Linked DNA regions of Homo sapiens: all the other regions are linked to region 3. Evidence: fine-mapped expression QTL. A gene starts in region 3. Each other region holds a variant in brackets. All regions are shown on one strand. Distances are from middle to middle. Region 1 has its middle 43 kb from the start of CATSPERB. Region 2 overlaps FBLN5 (fibulin 5). Region 3 holds the start of TC2N (tandem C2 domains, nuclear). Region 4 overlaps FBLN5 (fibulin 5). Region 5 overlaps TC2N (tandem C2 domains, nuclear).

Region 1 (5,303 bases), 92 kb after region 3:
GAAAGCCAGTCCTTCCTCATGACTTCTGAACCCAGTCCTCTCCGCATTCTCTGGGATTTCGTTCCATTTATTATGCCCATTTTCTCCTATTTTTGAACCATTCCCACTCACTCTACTGGATTCTTTGTTTCATCTTTGAAACCTCTGGTGTGTGGCTGTATCAAAATTGGTTGGTGATGTGTTTGATGCAAAGAACCCTACGGATACAGTTTTGGGGGTTAGGTTTTTGTATTGATGAAGGAACCCGTGTAAACACCGATGGACTGAATGTTTATGTTCCCCCAAAATTCATATGTTGAAATGCTAACCCCAAAGATGATAGTATTAGGAGGTGGGACCTTTGGGAAAAGATTAGGTCGTTAAGGCATTGGTAATTAGGCTGTTAAGGGATTAGTGCCTTTATAAAAAAGACCCAAAGAAATCCCTTGCCCCTTCTACCAGCTAAGGTTACAGTGAACAGATGACTTTCTATGAGGAAGCAAGCCTTTACCCAAAACCAAATCTGCCGGCATCTTGATATTAGACTTCCCAACCTCCAGAACTGTGAGGAATAAATGTTCATTGTAAGCTACCTAGTTTATGGTATTTTGTTATATCAGCCTGAATGGACTAAGAAACGTTACATAAAGCAGGAGCCAATGCAGCATGCTCCCCATAGAGGTGTGTCTTCCGAGGTCCCCAAAGCTTTCCCTGGGTTGGACTGCTACGGGTGAGTCTATGCATAGCCAGTGAAGATTCTCAGCACCAGAAGCTCTTTTCATTCTCACAGGAGTTTCTTTCCTCACTTTCCTTCTTCCACCCGACTGTTCCCAAGCATAGCCTTCATGTCTGCTTGCTCAACAAGTGTTAGTAATTGGTAGTCTACAATCCCAACAAATTCTTGAGTAATTATTAGAATTTAAGTGTAACTAACTCAATGAATAGGAAGGTTGGTTTCTCAGCATAGCATCCGTTAGGTCACCTTTCTCTGTGGTTTCTTTCTTAAAAAAATATTCCTAGACTTCCTCTCCTGTTCTAGATTCTGCCTTATCTGTTCTCCTCTTTATAGATAATTTCTAACCGCTCTGTCCTTAGTCCATTCTCTTCAATCTTCCATCCTCACCACTCCACCAAAGTTCATGTTAAAGTCTTAATAAATGCTTTTCAGCTATTTTTTTTCCTTTATTCTCATCAACTTTCTTAACAATAGCTTTCTCTCTCTCTCTTTCTCTCTCTGTCTCTCCCTGCCTCTCTCCTTGAAACCGTCTCTTCCTCTGGCTTTCATGTCATTATGCTCTGCTTATTTTTTTAACAACCTTCCTAGTCTGTTCTTCTCTGTTCGGCTCATCTTCATGCACCTGACTTTAAAAAGTAGAAGTTCTTTAGGACTCAGTCATAGGCCACCTTTTCTTGTCATTCCACACTGTTTTCCAGGGCAACGTCATCTATTTCCATGGCTTGAAATGCTATCTACTGTCTAATTTACATCTCTACCCAAATCTTGCTATGAGTTCCACTGTCATATAGCTAATGTGGACATCTTTTCTTAAACGTGTTCTAAATCAAACTTTTGATTTCCCATTCCTACCACAAGTGTGATCTTCACTTTTCCCCATCTGAGTAAAAGGCACTGTCATCCACCTAGTTGGTCATCCCAGAAACCTATTCATTGAGTTAATTACACTTAAATTCTAATAATTATTTAGAAATTTGTTGGAATCATTTTCTACCAGTTACTAACACATGTAAATGGAAAAACTATTTCTCTTTCTGTATTCTGGTTGTGCTGGGGGGGGGGGGGGAAATTAAAACAAGAAAAGCTGTTTCTTTATTCTTACAATACTTCTGACACCAAATGTGTGGGCTTTTCCCACCAAGCAATTCTTTAATTCCCTGTGGACACCAACTGGGTGTTGTATAATTTACCTTAATTCCAACACTACCCAGAGTTAGCACAGACCCCACAAATTAAGGGCCCAGTTCCACAGACTGCCCCCCACTTCCTATGCCAATCATAAGTGGCAGGTCTCCAGGCTGCCCACAACTTTGGTCTTACTTGACTACAAATTGGAGCTTCTCATGACACCTCAGGTTTGATAATTTGCTAAAATTGTTCACAGAACTCAGGGAAACAGTTTATGTACATATGTCAGTTTTTTATAAAGGATTCAAATCAGGAACAGCCAAATGGAAGAGATGCATGGGGCAAGCCAGTGGGGAGGGATGTGGAAGTTCCCTGCCCACTCGGGGAGTGCCACCTTGCAGGCTCTTCGATATGCTTACCAACAATAAGCCCTCTGGACTTCAGTTAAGATTTTTATGAAGATGTCATTACATAGGCATGGTTGATTAAGTCATTAGCCATTGGTGGTTGAACTCAGTCTCTACCCACTCTCTCCTCCCCAGAGGTTGAGGGGGCTTGGGAGATGGACCTGAAAATTCCAACCCTCTTAACTATATTTTTGTTTTCCTGGCAACAAGACCCTCATTCTTGACGGCTTTCCAAAAGTCACCTCATTAACATAAACTGGGGTGTGTTTGAAAGGGGCTTGTTAGGAATGACACAAGATGCTACTTTCACCTTCA[T/C]CGCTCTGGAGCTATTTCAGGAGCCAGGGACAAAAACCAAATATAAGAAAAGATGCCTCATCACACTTATTGCTTAGGAAATTCCAAGGGTCTTAGGTGTGTTGATGGTACAGTGGTGAGCATAGCTGCCTTCTAAGGGTTTTAGGAGCTCTGTGCCAGGAGTCAACGACAAAGACCAAATCTATGTTATATCAATATCACACCTTGGAACTCTTCTCTTATCTCCCATACTCAAGTCACCCTGTTCAGAAATATATATATCCTAAATAGATCTTGAATGCACCCACTTCTCCATCTCCACTTCAACTTCTCTAATCAAAGGCAAAATCATATCCCACCTGTAGTACTGTACTTTCCTTATAATCTGATTGTCACACCTTGGTTCTCGGTGCTCTTAGTATGAAGTCCAAAATCCTTAACACAGCCTACAAGGCCCTTGTAGGGGATGACCCACTTTTCCTCTACCCTCTTATATTCAATGAATGGGGGTCTGTGAATCAAACTAACAAATGACATTAACAGGAGAAAAGACACCATTTTTATTAATGTTTACATGCATAAGTATTCACAGAAAAGTGAAACTCAAAGAGGTAATTAGATTAGGAGTTTATATACCCTTTTAATAAAGGAAAGGAGGTTTGGACTTTAAGAGATAAATTGTGGGGAAGTGACTAGGAAATACATGGGGGAACTAATGGAGGATAAGGGTTATTTTAGTTAGGTCTGTTTGTGCAAACTCATCTCGGTGTTGACTCTCCATCTCCGGTGATAAGTCACTCCTCTTCCTGGTCCACAGAGTATGGAGAACACCTTCACAAAGCATAATTTATGCCCTGCTTTTAGGCAGTTAAGGGGACGGCAAAGAACTCTTCTTACATCTGTTGACTCTCAGTTGCTTTCAGCTCAAAATCTTTATGCCAAAGTGGCATACTTTGAGGTGACATATCCTGATCCCCTTTCTCCTGTTGTGTTGTAAGGAATAATTATGTTACTTAAAATGGGTTGGGTTTTGTTTGTTTGTTTGTTTTTTTGATGATCGGTCAGATGTGGACATGTAATAATAACACCATGGAGAGGCATATGAAAATGAAGGAGATTTATTATATTGGCAGGTCCTAGAAGAGGGAGGTATGGCATGCCATGCAGGGGGCATGTGGGAGGAACTCCCAGGGAGTGAGCTCACCCAAGCAGGTGGGGAGCAGAGAGAGAGAGGGTCGGGGGAAGGACCTATGGACAAGGGCCTTTGTTGGTGGTCAGGGTACAGTATATAAGCAAAAAGCATGAGAGTGTTTCATTGGAGTGTTTGAATGTCACTAGATCACACTCAGAATAACAAAAAGGGGAACTTGTGGCAGGAACCAGCCTTCTCACACTGGTGCACCTGATTGCCCAGACATAGTGTTCATAGCCTGTTTGTGGGAATGTTGAGGCATCAAGAAAATAGGAAGTTTTAAAAATTTACAATATCCCTGTATAATCTGAGCTCTGCCTTCCACTCCAGCCTTATTTTTAACAATTCTCCTCTTTAATCTCACTGATCTGTTTTCAGTTCTTGGAAGACAGACAATACACACCTAGCTTCCTCTGGATCTTCACACATCCTGTTTCACCTATGTGGAATAGTTTCTCTCTTTACTCTTCCCTTTACTAAATCCTATTCTCTTTTTGAAGGTGCCAGCTTAAATATCTGTTCCTCAGAAAAGTCTCTTTTGATTTTTCAAGCAATATTAGGTCTTATTTTCATATACTTTATGCTTTTTCTTTATAGCTTTTATCAGAATTATGGTTAAATAGTTAACTTACGTAGTTGTCTCTCCTAGACTGTAATTTCCATGAAAGCAGGGTCTTGTTTATTGCTGCATTCCTGAACCTAGTACAGTATCTGGCCTATAAGAGGTACATAGTCAATGTTTGTTCATTTACACATTTAACCGATAGGCAATGTTTTGAGTGTTAGGGATTTAACAGTGAACCAACAAAAAAATGAATGAACACATAGAGTTAGGTTTTATGGCTCAGTAAAGTGGTAGTTAAGGCCAATATCTTCTTATTGAAAGAGATAATGCTGTATAATACATTATTACCATATTTACTTTAAAATTCATTAGTACATTTCTTAATCAGAGAAAAGAAATATAATAGCTTCATATCTAACTCATACTATCAAGCTTACAAAAAACTTCTGAAATTTTAAAGTGTTTATAACACATAATGCTAAATTTAGTAGATTGCTGAGATCTTTATCCGATTTTGCCTTATCATTACATGTTAGCAGCTTAATGTATATCATTACTAAGAACAAAAATTATATTTATTTATTTAAAACATTTATTTTTTGCAGGGAATGAGTTAAATTTGATTTCTGTATAAAGTAGGAACAATACTTAGATTGTGTCCAGCTTTGAAATTTTCTTATAAGATGTAACTAACATGTTTAAGTGACCCTACATAAACAAGTACTGTAGTTGTTGTCTACTGGCCTAAACAGGATTTATAAGACTTCTGTAGGAAAGAAGACGAGCGTAGAAAATCGGTTAGATGATAGTTCTACTCCTGGAGGGAGAGAATGAGAATTTTGGAGACCCTTCCTGATACAATTTAGGAAATGGATTCAGGGAAGAGGCTGTAAGAGAAGCAGGCCTCATCCCATGTACATCTCAGTACTCGGGACAGTTTCCTCTACCTCTCCTTATCCAGGAAGGACAGATAATAGGTCTGCAGATAAAGAAGGTGAAAAA
Region 2 (5,308 bases), 22 kb before region 3:
CTGGCTAAACTCACCTTTCCCTTTCAAAATGCAAGTTCCATAGCCACACACTGTCTGTTCTGTGTACCACTGAAGATGCTGCTTTTGCAGAAAAATGAGGGGTCAGGGGGGCTGCCTTTTTTCCAAGGTACCCGTAGTGAAGGGTACCCTCTCCAGCCCCTGCTGCCTGCCTGGCCTTGGTGATGTGCCCAACTGCACTCTGGGAAGAAGTCAGGGCCAGCCACTGTACAGCCAATGGGCCCTCTATGCAAGAGCTGCTCTGCACTCAGGGGCAGTGCAGTGGCCAGGTTAGAAGTAGCCGGGACTTAGAGACAAAACAGAATCACAGGACAGGGCACAGAATCTGAGAAGGGCTGAACAATAGGTAAGGGATCAAGATGGATCTGGGAGGTGGAGTCCTTCCTGGCAGTAGGTAGAAACCAGGCACAAGGACTGAGGCTCTAAGCCGGCTTCCAGAGTCCTGGATGGCCCCTGGTTCCAAAGGAACAGGGGGACCAGGGAGGAAACCTGGTTAGATTGGGGGAGGTGGGGATAAGGACCAGTTCCAGCTACAGTCAGATCAACTGGTCACAGCAGGAGCCTGTATTGGTGCCATCTCAGACTCTGCCAGGAGGCCGGTGATTTCATTCACTACCCTTACCCCACAGGAATGAATTCTCCAGCCCATTATCACATCAGCTTGGGGTGTTGAGAAGTGCTTTCCCAATGACATCAGGCTCCCCATTGATGGATACATATTACAGGGAGGTCACATTGCCCAGCTCTGCTCAAAGGATCCATTCACCCACAGTGCCGCCGCTTTCCCTGGCAAGGCCAGCTGTGGCTTGGAAGAGATGTGTTTATCCAGAGTTTTATGTTCACTCTGGTGCAAGGAGGAGATTCAGGGTGAATTCCAGTGCCCTCATGTTACTGGATTCATGGGTCTCCAGGGTCATGCTGCCCAGCTCATCCCAGCCTAACTGGCTCTTGTTCCTGACAGCTGGACATATTCATTGTTCATGGAGCTGGCAAGGAGCCTATTGGAGTGATGCTATGGATTCTTCTTACGTGTTAAGAAGAATCCTGGGCAGTGGAGCCTCTATATGGAATCTTTGAGTTGAATCTTAACATTGGATAAATCTTAAGAGCTGGGTAATCTCAAATCTTAGAGCTGGGAAAAATTGGAGAGTCCATCTTGGATAAACCTTAGTGTTGAATCTTAGAGCTGGGTAAAATTGGAGAGCTCATTTTGCCCAACATCCCAATCGAAGCAGAAATTTCTTCTGCAACTTTTAGGATAGGTTCAGGTATTTATGGGACTGAGATGGGTCGAGGAGGGGAAAGATTGTGGGGAGATTGAGCCTTGTATTCGAGACAGCATCACCATCCGTGACACTCAGTAGGCACTGTCTTGGCTCCTGTTCCCATTTGCTTCCGTTCATGATCCTGTTTGGGAAGAGCAAGGCAATCATGCCATGCTAGTGGGGGCATCATTGAGTGAGGAGACCTGTCTCACTTTGCTTGCATTTCTGTTTCCAGACATTGATGAATGTCGCTATGGTTACTGCCAGCAGCTCTGTGCGAATGTTCCTGGATCCTATTCTTGTACATGCAACCCTGGTTTTACCCTCAATGAGGATGGAAGGTCTTGCCAAGGTATGTGACGTGCATGATAACTTGGACATGATGTGAGACACTAGCTGCAGCCTTCTTCAGCACCTGGCAGCTTATGTTTGTGGGAAATACTGCTGCTACAGTATATTCCCATTCCTTGCCACTGCCCGCCCATCCCCATTACTACAGAAACGTGAGACCTGAACCTTGCTATGCGAAGCATCTCAAAAAGTGCTCTGAATATGGCTGAGGGTAGGACCCCAATCCTCCACTGGCTGGGAGTGTACAGTTTCATGGATTCGCTTCTTTTCTGTGTCTGCTATCCAGAAGTAGCCTTGCTGGCTTTCTTGCCTAATCAGAAATTTGGTTGCATGTCCTGTAGCCTAAGTTCAGTTCCTGAGGCCTGAGGAGGGTTGGTCAGGGTCCCTGGCCCTCCAAGAATCATAAAATAAACACATCCATGCTAGGCAGGGGTGTCGTGGGCGATTCTGAGGTCTCTTGCTATACTTTTCCCTCCAACCTGTGCCAGGATGGCCTGTTCCTCAGCAAAGGGTCTGGTGGTGGTGGTAACATCCCCTGCTACTCAGCGTGCCCCCACAAAACCAGACTGAAACAAAGGCATTTTGTGGTTTTCACATGATCATTTGAAATACTGATAAG[T/C]AAGAAAAACAAGTTGCATGCCTATTGTGGTTTCCATCTGAAGGTTTCTTCTGCTCAGGAAGTGAATGGGGGACTTAAGACCCAAGGAATTAGCGCAAATCCTGCTTTGGCCCCCGACTTCCCCCTCAAATTCCAGCTCCCGGCCCAGGCCTCCAGCCCCTGGCAGCTGCTTGGCCCAGGTTGGAGTTGGAGGCAGTGCTGCAGACGCAGAATGAGGTCTTTGTCTGGAGACCTCAGGCTTTGCAGGGCCCATTTCCTTGTTTCATTCACCCTTGGAGTTCTGGCTGGCAGGCTCCTGGCCATTGAGTTTGGAGGCTATTAGGTCTCCTTTACTTTAATTGTATCTAAATCATCGGTAAATAGGAAGGCATCAGTGTTAAAGAGTTTGACCCTGGATTCTTTCTAAGTCTCTCCTCCAAAGCTTGTTCTGCTAATTGTTCCAAGAATTCTGGACTGTGTTCCTCACGCCAAAAGAGGTCATTTTCTTCTGAGAGTAGACACCAGGCCAGGAGGTTGAGGAAGCGGATAAACAAGGGCCCTTCCTTCCCACTGGAGCAGGAGGGGGCGCCTGGCTCCCTTGCTGCTGTGATAAGCAGCTTAGGGCAGATGCAGGCTTCTCTGTGCCAAGGCCTGGGATTGGAGGTGCCAGCCACAGGCTGGCACCGTGCCCCCAGTACCTCCTGAGGCATAGCCATGCCCAAGCCAAAAGGTGCCTGCGTCTTTCAGGCCTCTGAGGGACAGGTGTGTGACAAAGAGCAGATAATACACCTGGCAGTGCCAAGTCCACAGCATAATAAAGCAGCAGGCCCGGCACCCAGGCCTGGGTATGGGCACTCAGCCACTGGGATGCTGCATCAGCAGGGCCCATGGGCAGCACAGGGCGTCGCATACTCCGGTGAGCTTTTGCAATCCTGACTCTTCGTGTGTGGAAGAGTGCTGTACACGCTAGAGCATTGTCACGTCTGTTCATCTCACTGAACCCAAATAATAAATAGCCTCTTGAGGTCAGCAGGCAGGTGTTTGTGGCTCTGCTTCACTGAGGAAATAAAGGCTCAAAAAGGTTAAGCAACTTGGCCAAAGTCACACAGCCACGTGGTAGCAGATCTGAGAGTAAAACCAGGGGCCCAGACTTCTTGTCCAACAGGTTGGAGTGGGGCCCTGTGTGCCCTCAGCAGATTCAGAAGGGCATTTGGAAAGGGCTGGCAGGAAAGGGCAGTGAGAACCCCAGGGGGGCAGAATCATTTTGGTCGCCCTGCTCTTCAGAAGCAGCTGAGAGCGGTGAGGGGGTGGAATGAGTTCATTCACCTCCGAGTGGCCAGCGCCTGGCCAGAGGCTGAGGCCACCAGCCCTAACACTTGCCGGCACTGTCCTGTCTGAACTTGCACTCAGTGGCTTAGCACAGTGGACATTTTCCTACCCCCTCCTGTCCCCGGTGGGGAAACCCCAACCTCCCACGGGCACTGGTGGGGGCCAGTGTCTTGCTAGACCCTCTCTCTACAGCTGTTCATTTATTTGTTTTCTCCCTGAGAGCTCCAGAGATGCTAGGAGGCAGGAACTTTGTGGCCATGGGATTAGCCTCCCCTGTAAGAAAAGCCTCTCAGTCTGCTCACCGTGAAGGCTTTTAGCTCTGAAAACACTGACATCTCTTTTCAGAGGCCTAAGAGGTTTACATGGACTTGGGAAGAGGATAGAAAATCTCTCAGTTGGAACTTTGGCCATTGGTGTATGGAGCATTGTGGGATGGTGCTTACAATGGGTCAACCAATGCCAGTGGGAAAGAGACTCTTCCCTGCCCTCCCCGCACGATGAGCTGTGCAGAATGAATCTTGGTTTTTGTGGAAAAACCCCTGACTCATGTTCCAGTTCCCACTGTGTGTCCTTGTTAGCTGGTGGACTTGGGTACACCTCTCAATCTTCAAAAACAATTATATGTATATGTGTGTGTGTCTGTGTGTGTGTGTATATATATATATATGTATTTTTTTTTTTTTTTTGAGACAGAGTCTAGCTCTGTCAACCAGGCTGGAGTGCAGTGGCGTGATCTCAGCTCACTGCAACCTCTGCCTCTGGGGTTCAAGCGATTCCCTTGTCTCAGCCTCCCAAGTAGCTGTGATTACAGGCACCTGTTACCATGCCTGGCTAATTTTTTTGTATTTTTTTAGTAGAGACGGGACTTCACCATGTTGGTCAGGCTGGTCTCGAATGCCTGATCTCAGGTAATCCACCTGCCTTGGCCTCCCAAAGTGCTGGGATTGCAGGTGTGAGCCACTGCACCCAGCCTATAATTTTATTTTATTTTTTTTTGAGACAGGGTCTCACTCTGTCACCCAGGCTGGAGTACAGTAGCATGATCTCAGCTCACTGCAGCCTCAATCTCCCAGGCTCAAGTGATTCTCCCTCCTCAGCCTCCCGGGTAGCTGGGACCTCAGGCGTGTGCCACATCACCTGGCTAATTTTTAAATTTTTTGAAGAGATGGGGTCCCACTATGTTGCCCAGGTTGGTCTCAAACTCCTGGGCTCAAGCGATCCACCTGCCTCAGCCTCCCAAAGTGCTGGGATTACAGGCATGAGCCACTATGCCTGGTCCTTCAAAAATGCTTAAACAATCTTATTGATGCATAGTCAGTGTATAATAAACTGCACCATGATTTTATTAATTTTGACATACGTGTACCCGCATGAAACCACCACCACCACACTCAAGATAATGGATTTCCCATTAGTCCTTGTGTCCCTTGGTGGTCTTCTCCTTAACCTACTTAACCTCTAAAGTGGGCCAATGGTCCTCGTTGTAAGGATCAAGTGAGTGCAGGATCCTTCCCTAATGAGCAAAGTTATTTATGCATAATAAATATATTATTAGAATCATCATGGTTATTTGTTAACCTGAAACTTCCAAGTCAGTGAGGGTGAGGGGTGTTCACTGATGGAATGCAACCGGTGATGGAAGGAGCAGGTATTGCCTGGAAATTCCTGGTTGGGGGGGTGCGTTGGAGCATAGACTTACCAGCAGGTGTATATGTGTATATGTTTATATCATGTGTATACATATGGT
Region 3 (5,000 bases):
CTGGAGCCTCCGACGCTGCCTCTCATTGGCACCAAGGGACAGGAGAAGAGAGGAAATAACAGAGAGAATGAGAGCGACACAGACGTTAGGCATTTCCTGCTGAACGTTTCCCCGAAGAGTCAGCCCCGACTTCCTGACTCTCACCTGTACTATTGCAGACCTGTCACCCTGCAGGACTTGCCACCCCCAGTTCCTATGACACAGTTATCAAAAAGTATTATCATTGCTCCCCTGATAGAAGATTGTTGGTGAATTTTCAAGGCCTTCAGTTTATTTCCACTATTTTCAAAGAAAATAGATTAGGTTTGCGGGGGTCTGAGTCTATGTTCAAAGACTGTGAACAGCTTGCTGTCACTTCTTCACCTCTTCCACTCCTTCTCTCACTGTGTTACTGCTTTGCAAAGACCCGGGAGCTGGCGGGGAACCCTGGGAGTAGCTAGTTTGCTTTTTGCGTACACAGAGAAGGCTATGTAAACAAACCACAGCAGGATCGAAGGGTTTTTAGAGAATGTGTTTCAAAACCATGCCTGGTATTTTCAACCATAAAAGAAGTTTCAGTTGTCCTTAAATTTGTATAACGGTTTAATTCTGTCTTGTTCATTTTGAGTATTTTTAAAAAATATGTCGTAGAATTCCTTCGAAAGGCCTTCAGACACATGCTATGTTCTGTCTTCCCAAACCCAGTCTCCTCTCCATTTTAGCCCAGTGTTTTCTTTGAGGACCCCTTAATCTTGCTTTCTTTAGAATTTTTACCCAATTGGATTGGAATGCAGAGGTCTCCAAACTGATTAAATATTTGAAGAGAGCTTGTGTTTGGTTCATTTTGACATCATAGACGAGTCAGCCTTTGGGGTTCTAGTTCTGTTTAAACCTGTTTATTGTGCGCTGGCTTAGAAAGCTCTCCAGAGAGCTAGGGCATTATCTGTGACTCTGGCAAATTGATGGGAGGGGGGCGGTGGGGCAGAGAAATAGGGGTCGTGGGGAAGTTAGGGGGAGGCATCATCCCTGAGTCCTGTTTCATCTGATTAGAAAACAACCAACAATCCTTCTCTTACGTAGATTATTTCCGGTGCTCCTGCAGAACAGGAATGTATTCAAGTTACTTTAAACCAGTGGCCTTCAACCCTGGCTGCATAGACGGATAACCAGTAGAACTTTGGAGGAAAGATTGATTCCCCGGGACATGCCCCCAGACACTCTGATGTCATTGGGCTTAGGTAGGGCCCGGCCATCAGGATTTTTGAAAACTTGACTATGTAGCCAGAGTTGAGAATGTATTGTTATAAACCCTAGAAAGAGAGGTGGACAGATGGGGCTGGAGCCCTAGCTGCCTTGCCCTCAATGTCTTTTCTGCTCATTGTAGGATACATTATTCTTTTCCTGGTCAGGGCCTCTGGACATCCTTCAAGTCTTAGAACCCTGTGCAGGGGCCAAGAGAGTCAACATTGCAAGTCACAGGAGAACAGGTTGGGATGGCTGTCTTTATGTGCCATCCCAGGAATCAACCCAAGGCTTCAGGAAAAAAGTGCACTCCCTGATAGCTGAGGTGGAGTCTACAGATCCATCTGAGGGTGCTCCCATCCTACCTGTTGGTGAGGTATTCATTAAGGACCCCCACAGTGCCTATCAGGAGTTGTGTCCTGGACCCCTAGTCTTAGTAGGCATTCCACAGATCCTTGTGATATGGACAGGAGACAGGGAAATACTGGGTAGAAGAGGGTGGTTCCCTGGCAAAGGCCCCACCCTCAAGCCTGGGTACCCATGGCCCTAAATGAGGACAGCCATTCCTGTTTTCATCCCTAAAAAGTTGCCTTTTGGCCTGCCATGTCCCCTATCCTGTACCCATATAAACCCTGAACCCCAGGCTCCAGGCTCCAGAAGCAGACGGGGAGACAAGAAGATGAGCAGACATGAATGGCAGAAAAGCACGGCAAAGAAGGAGAGAAGAGAAGGAACATTGGGAGGAATTCGACTGGAGACGATCTGAAAACTGGCCACTGGATGGCCAAACTCCAGGGGAAGATCATCTTCCCACTCCATCCCCTGTCCAGCTCCCCATCCATCCTACTTAGAGCCACCTCCACCACTCAATAAAACCCCTGCATTCATCCTGCAAATCCATGTGTGACCTGATCCCTCCGGGATGCTGGACAAGAGCTCGGGATACAGGAAACTGTCACACTGGCCCTCTGCCCTGGCAAAAAGGGAGAGGGTCCACTAAGCTGGTTAACGCTTAAGCTGTCCACGGATGGCAAGGCTGAAAGACTGCACTGTTTCAGTGCCTACTCGGGCTTTGGAAGTCACAGACACCGACCCCGGGATGCTGTCATGGGGCTGGGGCCCAAAAGTGCTCACCCTGGTTCCTGCACCTGCCTGTCTGCGTGCTCCCCTTCCCATAAGGGGTTTTAGCTTGGGGTGGCTGAAGAGAGAGCCACACCCCTGTTGCACATCCTGTGAGGGGGCCAGGGAATTCTCCTGTTCCACTTAGTAGTATCTTAGGCCTTCAGTGGAAGGAAACAGCATGTTCCACGCCCTGTAGCATCCAAGAAGCTGCAAGTCCTCCCTCCTCACCCCAAGAGCATTTCTCACACCCACACCACACACCTCACTTTGCTGTTGGCTGTGGTTATTTTTTTCTCTAACTAAGCACATCTAAACCATGCCTAGTTGTGGTTCTTCAGTCAGGGTCAAGTGGTGTTAGCAATCACATCAGCACCAAATGGCTCAGGATGCTCTGGTTTCAAAGCTTATAAAACAGAGGGTGATTCCCTTGGGACTCACTCAGCTCGGCTCCGAAAAGCAAAGGCCAGAAGGCAGCAGTGAGCCTGGGTCCCTGCTGTGTAGGGAGACTCAGGGGCTGGGAAGAAGGATGGAATCAGAAATGCTGAAGGTTTACGTGAGCTTTGCACCGAGCGCCTCCGAACCACTGCCTCTGGGCTCAACAGAACACAGGGGTAAGTCTCCATGAACTTCTCAAAAAGAAAACTGGGAAGCTTTCTGTCTTGATGATTTGAGGACCCACTGGTTTCAGAGGTGCCACATTTGGAACCAGATCCGAGTCTTTAAGGTTTGTGTTTTATTTGTTCATGTCAAAATGTGGCTTCCTGCTTCTAAGAAAAGAAACTCAGGCTCATAAAAGCAGCCTCCAAGGGCTTCTTGGACCTCAAATTGCGCTTTCAAAATGTGGTCTGATGGGTTCAGTGTAAATGCACCAGAGGCATGTGGGATCCATTTACCTTAAAATACACTTGGGCCTAAAAATTAAGAGAAAAACAGTCCAGGGCAAAGTGTATACTGCAAAGTCAAGCTCCAAACATTTGGGAAACAGTTCTAGAGGCTGCTGGAACCCCAAATGCTACTTGCTTTACCTACCCCTTGGGAATCATCAAATGTTATTTTTTGTACAAGACTGGGGATGAGCCTGCTCTCTGATCCCAGTGCTGTGCTCTGCTGTGCAGTTCTAATGGGGCAGGCTGTTTCCTGGACCCTGAGATCTCCAGGCTCCCTGTGCCTATTCCTTGTCAGCTTTGCCCCATCCAGGAGCTGGGCTGAGCTTGTCAAGTGACCTCTGCTTTGTACCACTCCATCAGGTCCTGAAGAATGAAGGGTACCAAGGTGGAAGGGGCGCAGGATTAAGAGTAGGGACGCCTGCAAAAGCTCTCGTGTTACCACCTCATCTTCCAACTTTCATGTGGGTGAAAACGTTCATCCTAAATAATTGCTTCTAATTCTGAAGTTTTGTGATTCCTTGAAATGTACTTTGGGGATGACAGCCAGCATTTCCATTTCACTGCAATTTCAGAGTTTTGCAGTGGTTTGCCAATCATAACACTTTCTAATTGGCACAAAATCCACCTACCTGTTGCCTCTCAGGCTTGGGTAACATACTTCAGACACTTTCTTAGGTAAGTCTTGGCCCTTGGGGTGTTATTTGCCCAGATGGTAAAAACATTTAAGTAGGTCTGATTATTTCATTTTCAGTGGTTTCAACGCATTTTTGTGGCCTGGGTGGTTACTGTAATGTGCCCAAGTTGTTCATTCTGAGCCAACGGGGTCACCCACAGAGAGAAGACTTGACAAAGGAACTCTCCTCTACTCCCCTCTTGCCAGATGAAATATTGTTTGTAAAAGGTCTTTGTCTTGAGAGGATCACATACTTTGGTTAAGAATCCACTTTGGTTAAGCCGGTTGCTGGATTCAGAGACATGAACAGGATAGACAGTCCACCGATAACTTTATAATAACACCTTTTTAATAACACCTTTAATAACTTTTTAATAACTTTAAAAGTTATTAAAACTTTATAAAAAGTTAATCTAAAACTTTAATAACTTTTTAATAACACCTTTAGCCAGGGGTTTATGCAGCATACACGACAAAACTGGAATATAATGTGGTAGGTGCAGTAGCAGGGTCCACAAAATTATTTTAGTTAGATTTTAAAAATTATTAAGACATCTGTTTTATACAAGAAAAATTCTTATGAAAATTTATAGACATGTGTTTGAAATTTAGAATAAGTTGCCTCTGCTTAGAATTATTAAGTATTTTGAAAGGAAACACTAATAAATGCTAGATAAACTTTTTCTTTTTGATACAATTTGTGTTTACTTTAAATGCAATATTTTTTTATCTGAAAAAAAACGTGAGCACTTAGCAAATCTCTTCATTATTTTGGAATTGGCCAATGCTTATAAACTACAAACAAATATACAGATTGTTCCTTGTGCTGATATTTTTGTTTTCAAATTTCTTAGTCCTGTTACTTAACAAATGGCTGATATCTTTGTTGGAATCCCTGAACATAGCTAAAAGATGTTTTTTTAAAAAAAAAAAAAAAAAAAAACCAAGAGGCTCCAAGACAAAGGAGTGCACAGAGGCAAAATTTATCACTTTGGTAGCTTTTGCGGGGATGAAAGCCTCCAGTTAGAATGTTTGACTTACTAATGGTTCTTAATAATGAATCTTAGCCAGCAGCCATCAGAGAAATAAATCATTAA
Region 4 (6,040 bases), 54 kb before region 3:
CTGGTCTCAAACTCCTGAGCTCAGGCAATCCGCCCACCTCTGCCTCCCAAAGTGTTGGGATTACAGGCGTGAGCCACCACACGCGGTCTCACCATAGTATTTTTCTAGTGCCTGATAAATATTTGTTAAATAAGCAGAAAAGCTACATGAGTGAATTATATATGTGGGATTCAAATGAGAAAGAGAAATGGATTATATATTAGGTACAGTTTCTACATAGGTTAACTTATGACCACTGATGGAATTCATTTATCCATTTACCATTTATGTGTTGAGGTCTGAGCTGTGCATGTAAAGATTAACCCATTTATGCCTGATGTTGCAATTTTTAAAATTTTTGCAATCAGACCTTGGTGATGACCTTGAACAGGAGAATATAAATAACTCCCACATGCTTAGCGTTCCAATAATGGAACACTAGGCATAATTTATCAGATATCATCACCCCCTGGCGAGTTCACAGCCTCTTGGCGGGAGTCGGGTGGTTTGGCAGGAAATATGAAACCCAAATAATTTTATGTAGCCCAGTGAAATGGGATGGCAACGAACGTAGGTATGGGACACTTTGTTGGCTCTGGCTGGAGTGGTCACAGAAGCTTTCCTAAAGACAGGGTTGCATATCTGTGCGTCCATTTGATTAAACAATATTGACTGATCACTTTTCTGTGTCAGACACTGCCAAGGGCTAGGAGGGTCTAAGGATGAACGAGATGCTGTCCCTGCCCTCAGGATCTCTCTGCTGAGTGGGTGTGAGTGGGGGTTTTGGAGGGGGGTGTACATAACTCATCAGATTCTCTTCATGAGCCAGTGTCAGATGTGACTGATGAGAGCAATATGTCCCAGGTGCTATGGGAGTGCCCACGAGGAATGTGAATGCATATGGTGGCCTTTAGCAAGTCTTTGCAGGATTGAATAGGATTTCCATGTCAGAGACGAGGAAGGGCAGTCAGGGTTAGGGAACAGCATGGGCAGAGACATGGAGACAAGAAAGTTCACTGCATGTTGAGCAGTCTTGGTCATGAGTCAACCGGTCACCTGCACACTTATGACACCCAGTGTGGCTGCAGCATGGACACATGTTGTGGGCAGGGCAGGCACAGAATAAGAGATGAGGCTTAGAAGGTTGGCACTCAAGATTCCCCACCAGATTGTGGGGCCTTGAATTCCATGCAGTTGACTTGGGCTTTATTCTGTGAACACTGGTTTTTGAGCAGGGGAGTGAAATGTTTACAAGCCTATTTGGAGATTTCTGCTTAGCCTAGTCTTAGCACTGCCACAAGCTCATTGGGTGGTTGTGCTCCAGTTCCTTCTCTTTCTGGGGCTTCAGTTCACATCTGCATGAGAGGGGCTGGGCCATTATCTGTGAGGCTTCCTCCAGCCTTGACCACTCAGGATGCAAAGATGCTTATGACAACCAGGTGAAGGGTGGCTTCTGGAGACAGGCAGCTTTCGGAGATGGTATCTTCTCATTTGAGGCATTGATTTTGCATGTAGTCTAAGCTGTAGGGGCTAATTACTGGGTCACCTCATAATTACATCACCTCCATGTTCTCAGGGTCCTGGTCAAAGTCTCCTTTAGGCTTAAAACAGGGATGAGCCCTCTGCCGAGACCCCTGAAAAAGGGGCATCAGTGGATGGATGAAATTGGCTCTCACTGTGATGATAGGGCCTGGCCTGGTCCTGTGAGAAATCTGACACTGCCTTTATAATTCCTGGGGGAAGTTTGCAAGCAGCTGGAGCAAAACACAAGCTCCTTAGGAAGCCAAGAATCCTCCCAGATTGACCAACAAGGTAGAGATGTAAGCGATCCCACCATCAGACGTCTCTGGAAAATCCCACCTCAGACCTCAGACCTCCTCAACAGATCCTTTTTCCAGGATTGTCTCAATCTCATTTCTCTCCAGAGAGCAGACAGTGGCTGGGGGCCAGGTGGCACTGGCCTGT[G/A]GTCTGTTGTGGTCTCCACTTCTCCCCATGGAGGCTGGGTCCTGCGGTTACTGCCATGAGTCCTTTCATTGTAGTAATTCCCACTGGAACACTGCTTCTCGCTTTTCCAAATGCTTTCGTGTCCACCAGCTCATGGAATTCTCAAAATAGCCCAGGGAGGAAGGCAGGCCTAGGAATGTTCTTCCCTTCATTTTATTTATTTATTTATTTATTTATTTATTTATTTATTTATTTACTTTATTATTATTATTATTTTTGAGACAGAGTCTTGCTCTGTCACCCAGGCTGGAGTGCAGTGGTGCGATCTCGGCTCACTGCAATTTCCGCCTCCTGGGTTCAAGCGATTCTCATGCCTCAGCCTCCTGAGTAACTGGGATTACAGGCACCTGCCACCAGGCCCAGCTAATTTTTGTATTTTTAGTAGAAATGGGGTTTTGCCATGTTGGCCGTGTTCAAATTCCTGACCTCAGGTGATCCGCCCGCCTTGGCCTCCCAAAGTGCTGGGACTACAGGCCACCGCGCCTGTCTGCCCCTTCATTTTAGAGAATATGTGGAAGGGCTCCATGACTGTCCCACATCCCAGAGTTTGCTTGTGATTTAGGCTGACCAGCATGTGGGCCCGCCAGCTTTAGGCCCTTTTAGGCCATCCCACGACGTGCCCTGGTTGGTCATAGGCACCATGCCAGCTCCTTTCTCTACCCCAAATATACCAGGCCCTTCTGGACCTCAGGGCCTTCACACTTTCTCTTCCTTCTATTTGGAACTCTCTCCTGGCTCTTCACATTGCGGGCTCATTCTCCTCTCTGGCTTCAGCTCAGTTCAGATGGCACCCCTTAGAGAGTCCTACTCAGGCTGCCTTGTCTGAAATTACACCGCAGTTACTCCCAATCACAGCCTTATCATTTTCCAGCACAGTCTTCAGCGTGCATTAAATCCACCGGAGGCCTTCAAACACAGATTGCTGCCGAGTTTCTGACTCAGTAGGTCTGGGGTGGGGTCTTTTCTTCTGAGTGATGCTGACGCTGCTGGCCCGGGGGCTGCACTTTGAGAGCCACTGATTGGTGGCTTTTTATGTATTTGTTTGTTGATTTTCCCATCCCTTAGCTGTAAACTTCAAGAGGGGAAGAAACGTTGCCTTGTAACCTGCTGCATCCCCACTGCCTGGCCCATAGTTGGTGCTTGCTAAGTACCTGTTAGCTGGCTATTGGCTGAAGGCTCAGCTGGAACCTCTTGCTTCATAATCAATCGTCTTGCACCTGAGAGGGAAGAAGGACAAGCATTGGCAGAAACTCTGGGAGCTACTTGGTCTCAGCTCTTCTCTGCTTTACTACCTTTTTCTTTAACTTTTTCATGCTTGAGCCTTTTCTAAGGGTCATTATTAATTTTGGGTAAAGATTACATGGATAATTTTCATAAAATCCCAGGTGACGGATTTTACTTTCTGGGTTCAGAATTCCAACGAAGCCGCAGGACATCTGGGTAAGAGAATTAAAATGTCGTGACTGGCTTGCATAGAACACCTCGTAGAATTCCCAATGTGGTACTTTCAGAACCCTCTGTGTCTCAGGCCTACTAGCCTTTGGCTTCAGAAGAACAAAGTTGAAATTTTGCCAGATTGGAGTTGGGTTTTAACCATGAAATGTTATCTATCTTCCCTGACAAAGAGGAGTTGAAGACCAGTTCTAATGATAGATCCCCTGAAGATATTGCTTTGGCCAAGGGAGTGCTGAGGGTAGGCTTGGGCTGACCTGGTCCATACTTCGTGCTACCATTGGGGGCCACAGGCAATGGAGTATGTGGGTTGGAGGCTTGCCAGGAGGAGGGTTGGCAACTCCTGCATAAACCACCACAAGGCTGCTATGGACTGAGAATCGTGGGAACAGCTGATTCTGCCCAAGGGGGTTGAGGAAGTCTTTACCAAGGAGGGACATTTATAGTTTGGTTGAGAAATCTGGAGGATAGGTATGTGATATGACAGGATTTGTCCAAGATCACCTGGCAGGCCATTGGCAGCGCTGAATAAAGCCCAAAGTCTCTGGTTTCTTAATCTCCAAAAATCATGAGTTGTGCAAAGAGATCAGATTCAGCAGCTGAATGACCTTGAGCAAGTCACTTCTCCGTGGTTGAAGGATGATCTTTAAGATTCGTTTAGATAATTCATTCATTTCGAGACACTGGGGATAGTAAGTGACCAGTCCTCTTTGTAAATCATACAGCCCTATTCTTTCCATATTCAAGCTCAATAAATAGTTGTACATTGAATGAATTTGACTGCTAGCATCATCTCTTTCCAAAGACAGAAAATATGGGGCAGGAGACCCTGGTGCATTAGCAGGCAGACAAGCCACAAATGGGTTAATAAAATAGAGTCATTAAGACAACAGGAGATAGTGCAACTTGGCTTTTGACTCTGAGGAGGAGGGAAGGCTTGCCAGGATTGCATTCCAGCACAGCCTACTGACCGTGGGGAAGAGTGTGTGGGACTCCAAGTCAAGCCCCAAGAGCCACACGCACGCTAATAAGTTCTAGTCAACAAGAACTCTGAAACCAGACAGGGGAGGGAGAAGGACAAGGCAGTCTACTTCCCTCTGGAAGCTTGGGAGGTGCTCAGGGCCAGGGGGAAAGCCCACACAATGTACTAGTTTGCTAAGGTGGCCATAACAGAGTACCACAGACTGGGCAGCTTAAACAACAGAAATGTATTGTCTCCTCGTTCTGCTGGCCAGAAGTCTGGGATCACAATGTTGGCAGAGTTGGCTCCTTTTGAGGGCTGCAAGGGAAGGATCTGTTCCTTGTCTTTCTAATTGGCTTATAGCTGGCCCTGTGTCTTTCCTTTCCTTTACTTGACTTTGTCTTTCCTCTGTGGGTGTTTGTGTCTCAGTTTCCTCTTCTTAGGAGGACACTAGACATTTTGGAGTAGGGCCCGCTATAACGGGCTCATTTTAACTGAATTACCTCTTTGAAGACCCTGTCCCCAATTGCAGTCACATTCTGAGGTACTGGGGGTTAGGACTTGAATATATGAATTTTGGAGGGACACGATTCACCCTATAACACAGGACACAGCCCTCTTCCTCCAGTGGGGACCCTTTTGAGGTCAGAGACCCCTGGTAATCCTTCCTTCCTTCCTTCCTTCCTTCCTTCCTTCCTTCCTTCCTTTCTTTCTTTCTTTTCTTTTCTTTTCTTTTCTTTTCTTTTCTTTTTTTTTTTCTTTTTTTTGAGACAGAGTCTTGCTCTGTCACCCAGGTTAGAGTTCAGTGGTGTGATCTCGGCTGACTGCAACCTCTACCTCCCAAGTTCACATCATTTTCCTGCCTCAGCCACCCAAGTAGCTGGGATTACAGGTGCATGCCACCATGCCCAGCTAATTTTTGTATTTTTACTAGAGGCAGGGTTTCACCATGTTGGCCTGGCTGACCTCGAACTCCTGGGCTCAAGTGATCCACCCATCTTGGCCTCCCAAAGTGCTGGGATTACACGCATGAGCCACAGTGCCCGGCTGCCATTCTTTTTTCTTATCCTTAATGACCTTAATCTGTGATTTCTTCCCAGAGGCCTTCTTAGATCTTTACTGATCTCATCCCAAGCCCATTGGAACCTCCTCTTCTCTGAGTTCCCAAAACACTGTGCTTGTGCCTCTGTTGGGACATTTCTCACCATCTACCTTAGACTTAGGAATGTGCTTGTGCCACTTACTCATTAAAGCTTCGTGTCCTGTTATCTTTATGTCTCTTTCATATCCCCTATCTCCTGTCTTGCAGATAGAACAGGGTCAATAATGTTTGCTGGCTTGTTGATAGGTCAGCTGTCCAAGAAAGTTGGGTAATAAGTGCTGGATAAACAGGAAGATGAGGTTGTTAGAAAACAGCAACAGCAACATGCCTTTCCTTAGATTTTGTGCACTCGTAGACAAAGTCAAGCTACTGGATTTATAAAGAAAAGATGCTCTTTCCATCCTTCCATCCTTGTTTGGCCCCAGTAGGTCAACAGAAGAATCTACAAACTGGGTGCTCAGCATTCTTAAGCCCCCAGAGTTCAAATCGAATTCCTCTTTTGGCCAGTCTTGGAGAGACTCTTCAATCATATCTTAAATAAT
Region 5 (6,553 bases), 58 kb after region 3:
ATGCACTTTAACAGTAGTGTATTAATTGCTCAAATATCGTCTGGACAAAATTAATGTAGATTCCAGAAGTGTTTGGTAAGACCCAAGAGTAGTTTATGTGTCAGGAATTTCTTCTAAAATGGTTAAATAAATATCAAAGTATGCTAGGTTTAGATTATTATATGTAACCTATATTCATATTTGTGACTTTTTTTTTCTTTTATATGCAGTTTCTGTGGAAAGAGATTTTAAAGCAGCAGTCCCAAATAGTCAAAATGCTACTATCTCTGTACCTCCATTGACTTCTGTTTCTGTAAAGCCTCAGCTTGGCTGTACTGAGGATTATTTGCTTTCCAAATTACCATCTGATGGCAAAGAAGTACCATTTGTGGTGCCCAAGTTTAAGTTATCTTACATTCAACCCAGGACACAAGAAACTCCTTCACATCTGGAAGAACTTGAAGGTAAACAATAAAATAGCAGTATTTAAAAATCGATATGTAGCATTTAAGTGCTATTATTTTACTTTTATATTTTTAATACAAAATTCATATAAAATTTTTTTATTTTACTTTTTATATTTTGCTCTTTCTGTAGAAGAACTTAATGTACAGTAGTTTTGAAAGGTCCCATTTTGAAATCTGATCATAATACAATAATTTGTATGTAGAATTGGCCTTTTTTCAAGAAATAATATGTAATTGGCCCTCCATATCTTTGGGTTCCACATCTGTGGATTTAACCAACTGCACCTCAAAAATATTCAGAAAAAAAAAAAGAATGATTGCATCTGTACTGAACATGTGCAGACTTTTTTCTTGTCATTTTTTCCCTGAACAATACAATATGACAACTATCTCAGTAGCATTTACATTGCGTTAGGTATTATAAGTAATCAAGAGATGATTTAAAGCATATGGGAGGATGTGCATAGGTTATGTGCAAATACTACACCATTTATATAAGGGACTTGAGCATCCATGGATTTTGGTATCCATAGAGGGCTGGAACCAATCCCCCACATATACTGAGGGATAACTGTAATTAGAATACCTCAGTTATCCGTCACATGTCTAGAATGAAAAAGTAAAGGAGTTAGTAAATGTAGAAAACATGTTTCTTATTTATTAATTTCTAATATTTGGTTAGTAATCACTTTTCCTTCTCTTCTTTCTTCTACCAGGTTGTACTTCCCAGTCTAAATAGTTACTTGAATGAGGTAGATCCATTGGCAGAATTTGGCTGATGTAGAAGCCAAATTATTAGAGAGAAGATGAAACAACATGTAGCTCTTGTCTTGTTTTTTTAAAAAACAATTTGTATTAGTCCATTGAAACACTGTAAGTCACAATAGCTTTTTTACCCTCAAAATTTTATTAGAAAAATTTCAAACATACAGGAAAATAAAAAAAAAACTTAATAGTGAAGACCTGTATGTCCACCACATAAATTCTGCCATTAAGATTACTTACTATACTTGCTTTAGCAAATATCTGTCTACCTATCCATTCTTCTATCCATTATTAATCCACTTTTTGGAGAGGAATGAATTTCAGAGTAAATTGAAGACACCAATATATTTCCTTGCAAACACTTAAACATATATATCATTTACTGGGTTCAACGATCTCTTTACAGTTTTCTTCTTTTGGCATAAATTTTACACACAGTGAGCTGCCCAAGTGAGTATTTGTAGAATTTTGTGTGTATTTGTTGAATTTTAAGTGTATATTTGTTGAATATTGACAAAAGTATATGTCAGTGTAATCCAAATCTCTATCAAGATCTACAATATTTGTCCAAATATTTTTTGTCTTATCCCCTCTCTTTTCTGCTTCTGGGATTCCGATTATACCTATGTTGAACCTTTTGATATTGTTCTATGGGTCTCTGAGACTTTTTTTTTTCAAGTATCTTTTTTTCTCTGTTCTTTAGATTCAATAATATTGATCTTTTTTTCAAGTTCACTGTCTCGTCTGTTATCTTTAGCCTGCTGTTAAGCCTATTCATGAATTTTTTATTTTAGACATTGCATTTTTTAGTTCTAGAGTTTACATTTGGTTCTTTGTTATAGATTTCCTCTACTGCAATTTCTTATTTTTACAGTATTGCAAACCTATTTTCTTTTATGTTTTTAAGCTTTAAAATCTTTATCTGGTGATTTCAGCATCTTGATCATCTAGGTTTGGATTCTGTGGATTGTCTTTTTTCTTGAAAATAGATCACATTTTCCTGTTTCTTTGTATATGGAGTAATTTGGGGTTGTATTCTTGATATCAATATCAAAAATATTGAATGTTATGTTGTGGAGACTCTAGATTCAGTTACATTCTTCTGAAAAGGTTCCTTCTTTCCTCCCTTTCTCCCATCCTCCCTTCCTACTTCTCTTCTTTCATCCCTCCCTTCCTCCTTCCCTTTCTCCTTTCCCTCCTGATATGGTTTGGATGTTTGGCCCCGCCAAATTCATGTGATTCCCAATGTTGGAGGTGGGGCCTGGTGGGAGGTGTTTGGATCATGGGGGCAGATCCCTCATGTATGGCTTAGCACCATCTCCTTGGTGATAAGTGAGTTCTAGCTCTGAGTTCCTGTGAGATCTGGTTGTTTAAAAGAGCCTGGCACCTCCACTGCCCATCTCTTGCTCCTGCTGTTGCCGTGTGATGTGCCTGTTCTCTTTTTGCCTTCTGCCATGATTGTAAGCTTCCTGAGTCCCTGATTAGAAGCAGATGCTGGCACCATGCTTCCTGTACACACTACAAAACAGCAAGCAAATGAAACTGCTTTTCTTTATAAATTACCCATCCTCAGATATTCCTTTATAGTGGCACAAACAGACTAACACACCTTCCTTCCCTTCCTTCCTTTCTTTCTTCCTCCCTCCTACCAGACAAGTAAACTGGTTGGACTTAAACTACAGATTTTGTCTTGGGTGGCAGCTCTTGGGTGGTAGTTCAGAGATGAGACAGATATTTGAAAAGGCTTTATTTACAGAATTTGGGAATCTCTCCTTTCCAGGATTCCCACCTTACTTTCCTGCAGCTCTGATTTTCTTGAACTGTACCCTGTGGTTCTTCAGGCTAGAAAGACTGTGAGTTTTCTATTGGGGTTTTATATACCCTGCGTGTTGCCAACTTTGATGTGTACTCAGGCTAAAAGTCATTAAAAACAGATAACTCACTTTGTGCCATTACCTTTTTCCCCAGAATCAACTCCTGTCCAGATCTGTATTACTTTTCTTTACTCTTCATTGCCTTCAGGGTTTTTATTTTCTTGCTTTGTTTTAGTTTTGGTCTAGAGTTTATTGTTACCTACAAGAGAGTTGGGTCTGGTAGGAGTGATTTTTTAAATTTTAAATTAAAATTTGTTTTTTTGAGACAGAGTCTCACTCTGTTGCCCAGGCT[G/T]GAGTGCAGTGGCATGGTTTTGGCTTACTGCAGCCTCCATCTCCTGTGTTCAAACAATTCTCATGCCTCAGCCTCCTGAGTAACTAGGACTACAGGTGCACACCACCACACCCAGCTAGTTTTTGTATTTATAGAGATGGGGTTTCATCATGTTGGCCAGGCTGGTCTTGAACTCCTATTCTCAAGCATTCCACCCACCTTGGGCTCCCAAATTGCTGGGATTACAGACGTGAGCTACCATGCCTGGCCCAATTTTAATTTTTTAGAGAAAAGAAAAGATGAACCTAGTGCCTGGCCTATCATCTTACTTTGCGCATATCAATAGTGTTTCTCAAAAATAGTTTTAAAAAGTTCTGGCTTACAGAATACCCAATCAATTGATCTTTCTCTTTTTTTTTCATACTTATTAACAACATTGGGATTAAACCATGCAGCCTTGTAAGTTGTTTCATCCACATAATATGTTGTGAACATTTCATATTTGTTGCTTTTTGATGAATACATAGTATTTCTTCATATGGACATACTGTAATTTTTTTAATGAATTTTCTATTCTTAAATAATTTTGAGTTTTTACTCTATTATTTTCATAATCAGAAAAAAGGTAAGAAATATCCACCTGGAAATATGTGATAGTTTTTCTTATGTTCTTGACATTGTGCTCACTAGAAAACATTGCTTTTTGAGTTGAATGAGGAAGAAATTGGTTAACTCCTAAATTATAGGTTCACTGAAGAAGTGGTAAAACCATCTGATTTGTATATATTAAAGAGAAAATTACTTTTATTAGAGTCAAGAAAGTAAGGTGGTACCTAATTAAAGAAGTTAAATATGTGTATGTATGTATGCACGTGAATGATGGGTTGAGAAAAGAGAAGATTTTGAGTGAATAGAGCAGACTGCTATCAATAATGACTAAAATTGTGTTGCAAGCACAGTCAGGAATCATTTAACAATGGCGATATGTTCTGAGAAATGTTGTTGTTAAGCTATCTTATAATTGCATGGACAGTGTAGAGGCACTTACACAAACCTAGATGGTGTAGCCTACTAAACACTTAGGCTATATGGATACCATATTTCTCCTAGGCTACAAACCTATACAATATGTTACTATGCTGTATACTATACTAAATACAGTATTCAGTACAGTAAAAATATGGTATAAAAGTTAAAAGATGATACACCTTGTATTAGTCTGTTCTCACGCTGCTGATGAATACATACCTGAGACTGGGTAATTTATGATGAAAAAGAGGTTTAATGGAATCACAGTTCCATGTGGCTGGGAAGGCCTGACAATCATGGCAGAAGGTGAAAGGCATGTCTTACATGGCAGCAGGTAAGAGACAATGAGAGCCAAGCAAAAGGGGAAACCCCTTATAAAACCATCAGATCTGAGACTTATTCACTATCACAAGAACAGTATGGGAGAAACTGCCCCTATGATTCAATTATCTCCTACCAGGTGTCTCCCACAACATGTGGGAATTAGGGGAGCTACAATTCAAGATGAGATTTGGGTGGGGACACAGCCAAACCATACCATTCTGCCCCTGGCCCCTCCCAAGTCTCACATCCTCACATTTCAAAACCAATTATGCCTTCCCAACAGTCCCCCAAAGTCTTAACTCATTTCAGCATGAACTCAAAAGTCCACAATTCAAAGTCTCATCTGAGACAAAGCAAGTCCCTTCCGCCTATGAGCCTGCAAAATCAAAAGTTAATTACTTCCTAGATACAATAGGAGTATAGACATTGGATAAATACACCCATTCCAAATGGGATAAATTGGCTGAAATGAAGGGGCTAAGGGCCCCATGCAAGTCCACAATCCAGCAGGGCAGTCAAATCTTAAAGCTCCAGAATGATAACCTTTGACTCCATGTCTCGCATCCAGGTCATGCTAATGCAAGAGGTGGGTTACCATGGTCTTGGGCAGCTCCACCCCTGTGGCTTTGCAAGGTACAGCTTCCCTCCTAGCTGCTTTCACGGGCTGGTGTTGAGTATCTGTGGCTTTTCCAGGTGCACAATGCAAACTGTTGGTGGATCTACCATTCTGGGGTCTGGAGGATGGTGGCCTTCTTCTCACAGCTCTACTAGGCAGTGCCCCAGTGGAGACTCTGTGGGGGCTTCAACTCCACATTTCCCTTCCATACTGCCCTAGCAGAGGTTCTCCATGAGGGCCCCACCTCTGCAGCAAACGTTTGCCTGGACATCCAGGCATTTCCTTACATCCTCTGAAATCTAGGAGGAGGTTCCCAAACCTCAATTCTTGTGACTTCTATGCACCTGCAGGCTCAACCATGTGGAAGCTGCCAAGACTTGGGGCTTCCACCCTCTGAAGCCATGGCCCAAGCTGTACCTTGGCCCCTTTAGCCATTGCTAGAGCAACTGGGATGCAGGGCACCAAGTCCCTAGGCTGCACACAACAGGGGGGCCCTGGGCCTGGCCCATGAAACCACTTTTTCCTCCTGGACCTCTGGGCCTGTGATGGGAGGGCTTGCTGCAAAGGTCTCTGACATAGCCTGAAGACATTTTCCCATTGTCTTGATGATTAACATTTGGCTCCTTGTCACCTATGCAAATTTCTGCAGGTGGCTTGAATTTCTCCTCAGAAAATGTGTTTTTTTTTTCTATTGCATTGACAGTCTGCAAATTTTTCGAACTTTTATGCTCTCTTTTAAAACTGAATGCTTTTAACAGCAGCCAGGTCACCTCTTGAATGCTTTGCTGCTTAGAAATTTCTTCCACCAGATACCCTAAATCATCTCCCTCAAGTTCAAAGTTTCGGAAATCTCTACAGCAGGGGCAAAATGACACCAGTGTCTTTGCTAAAACATAGCAAGAGCCACTTTTACTGCAGTTCCCAACAAGTTCCTCATCTCTACCTGAGACCACCTTGGCCTGGATTTCATTGTCTATGTCATTATCAGCATTTTGGTCAAAGCCACTCAACAAGTCTCTAGGCAGTTCCTAACTTTCCCACATCTTCCTGTCTTCTTCTGAGCCCTCCAAACTGTTCCAACCTCTGCCTGTTACTCAGTTCCAAAGTTGCTTCCACATTTTTGGGTATCTTTACAGCAGCACCCCACTCCTGGTACCAGTTTACTATATTAGTCCATTTTCATGCTGCTGATGAAGACATACCTGAGTTTAGGTAATTTATAAAGAAA

The links. PIP is the estimated chance that this variant, and not a neighbour inherited with it, causes the effect. A credible set is the group of variants that fine-mapping cannot tell apart.
Region 1: its variant is the best candidate, but not a certain one, in a credible set for the expression of TC2N in whole blood (INTERVAL, PIP 0.81).
Region 2: its variant is the best candidate, but not a certain one, in a credible set for the expression of TC2N in whole blood (TOPMed, PIP 0.78).
Region 4: its variant is the best candidate, but not a certain one, in a credible set for the expression of TC2N in whole blood (INTERVAL, PIP 0.73).
Region 5: its variant is the best candidate, but not a certain one, in a credible set for the expression of TC2N in monocytes after Pam3CSK4 (Quach 2016, PIP 0.88).

What each region holds. Positions count from the first base shown.
Region 1 is chr14:91,772,924-91,778,226 of GRCh38, reverse strand. No RefSeq gene overlaps it. Among named protein-coding and RNA genes, the nearest start is that of CATSPERB, 43 kb to the right of the region's middle. The variant T/C (reference allele first, on the strand shown) is at 2,566.
Region 2 is chr14:91,887,548-91,892,855 of GRCh38, reverse strand. FBLN5 (fibulin 5) reads left to right here. Exons shown (of 11, transcript NM_006329.4): 6 at 1,519-1,635. Among named protein-coding and RNA genes, the nearest start is that of TC2N, 23 kb to the right of the region's middle. The variant T/C (reference allele first, on the strand shown) is at 2,254.
Region 3 is chr14:91,865,216-91,870,215 of GRCh38, reverse strand. TC2N (tandem C2 domains, nuclear) reads left to right here and starts at 2,680. Exons shown (of 12, transcript NM_001128596.3): 1 at 2,680-2,954. FBLN5 (fibulin 5) reads left to right here. Exons shown (of 11, transcript NM_006329.4): 11 at 1-805. RefSeq lists an enhancer at 2,465-2,514.
Region 4 is chr14:91,918,454-91,924,493 of GRCh38, reverse strand. All of the region lies in intron 4 of FBLN5 (fibulin 5), which reads left to right. Among named protein-coding and RNA genes, the nearest start is that of FBLN5, 26 kb to the left of the region's middle. The variant G/A (reference allele first, on the strand shown) is at 1,945.
Region 5 is chr14:91,806,202-91,812,754 of GRCh38, reverse strand. TC2N (tandem C2 domains, nuclear) reads left to right here. Exons shown (of 12, transcript NM_001128596.3): 3 at 210-443. Among named protein-coding and RNA genes, the nearest start is that of TC2N, 58 kb to the left of the region's middle. The variant G/T (reference allele first, on the strand shown) is at 3,378.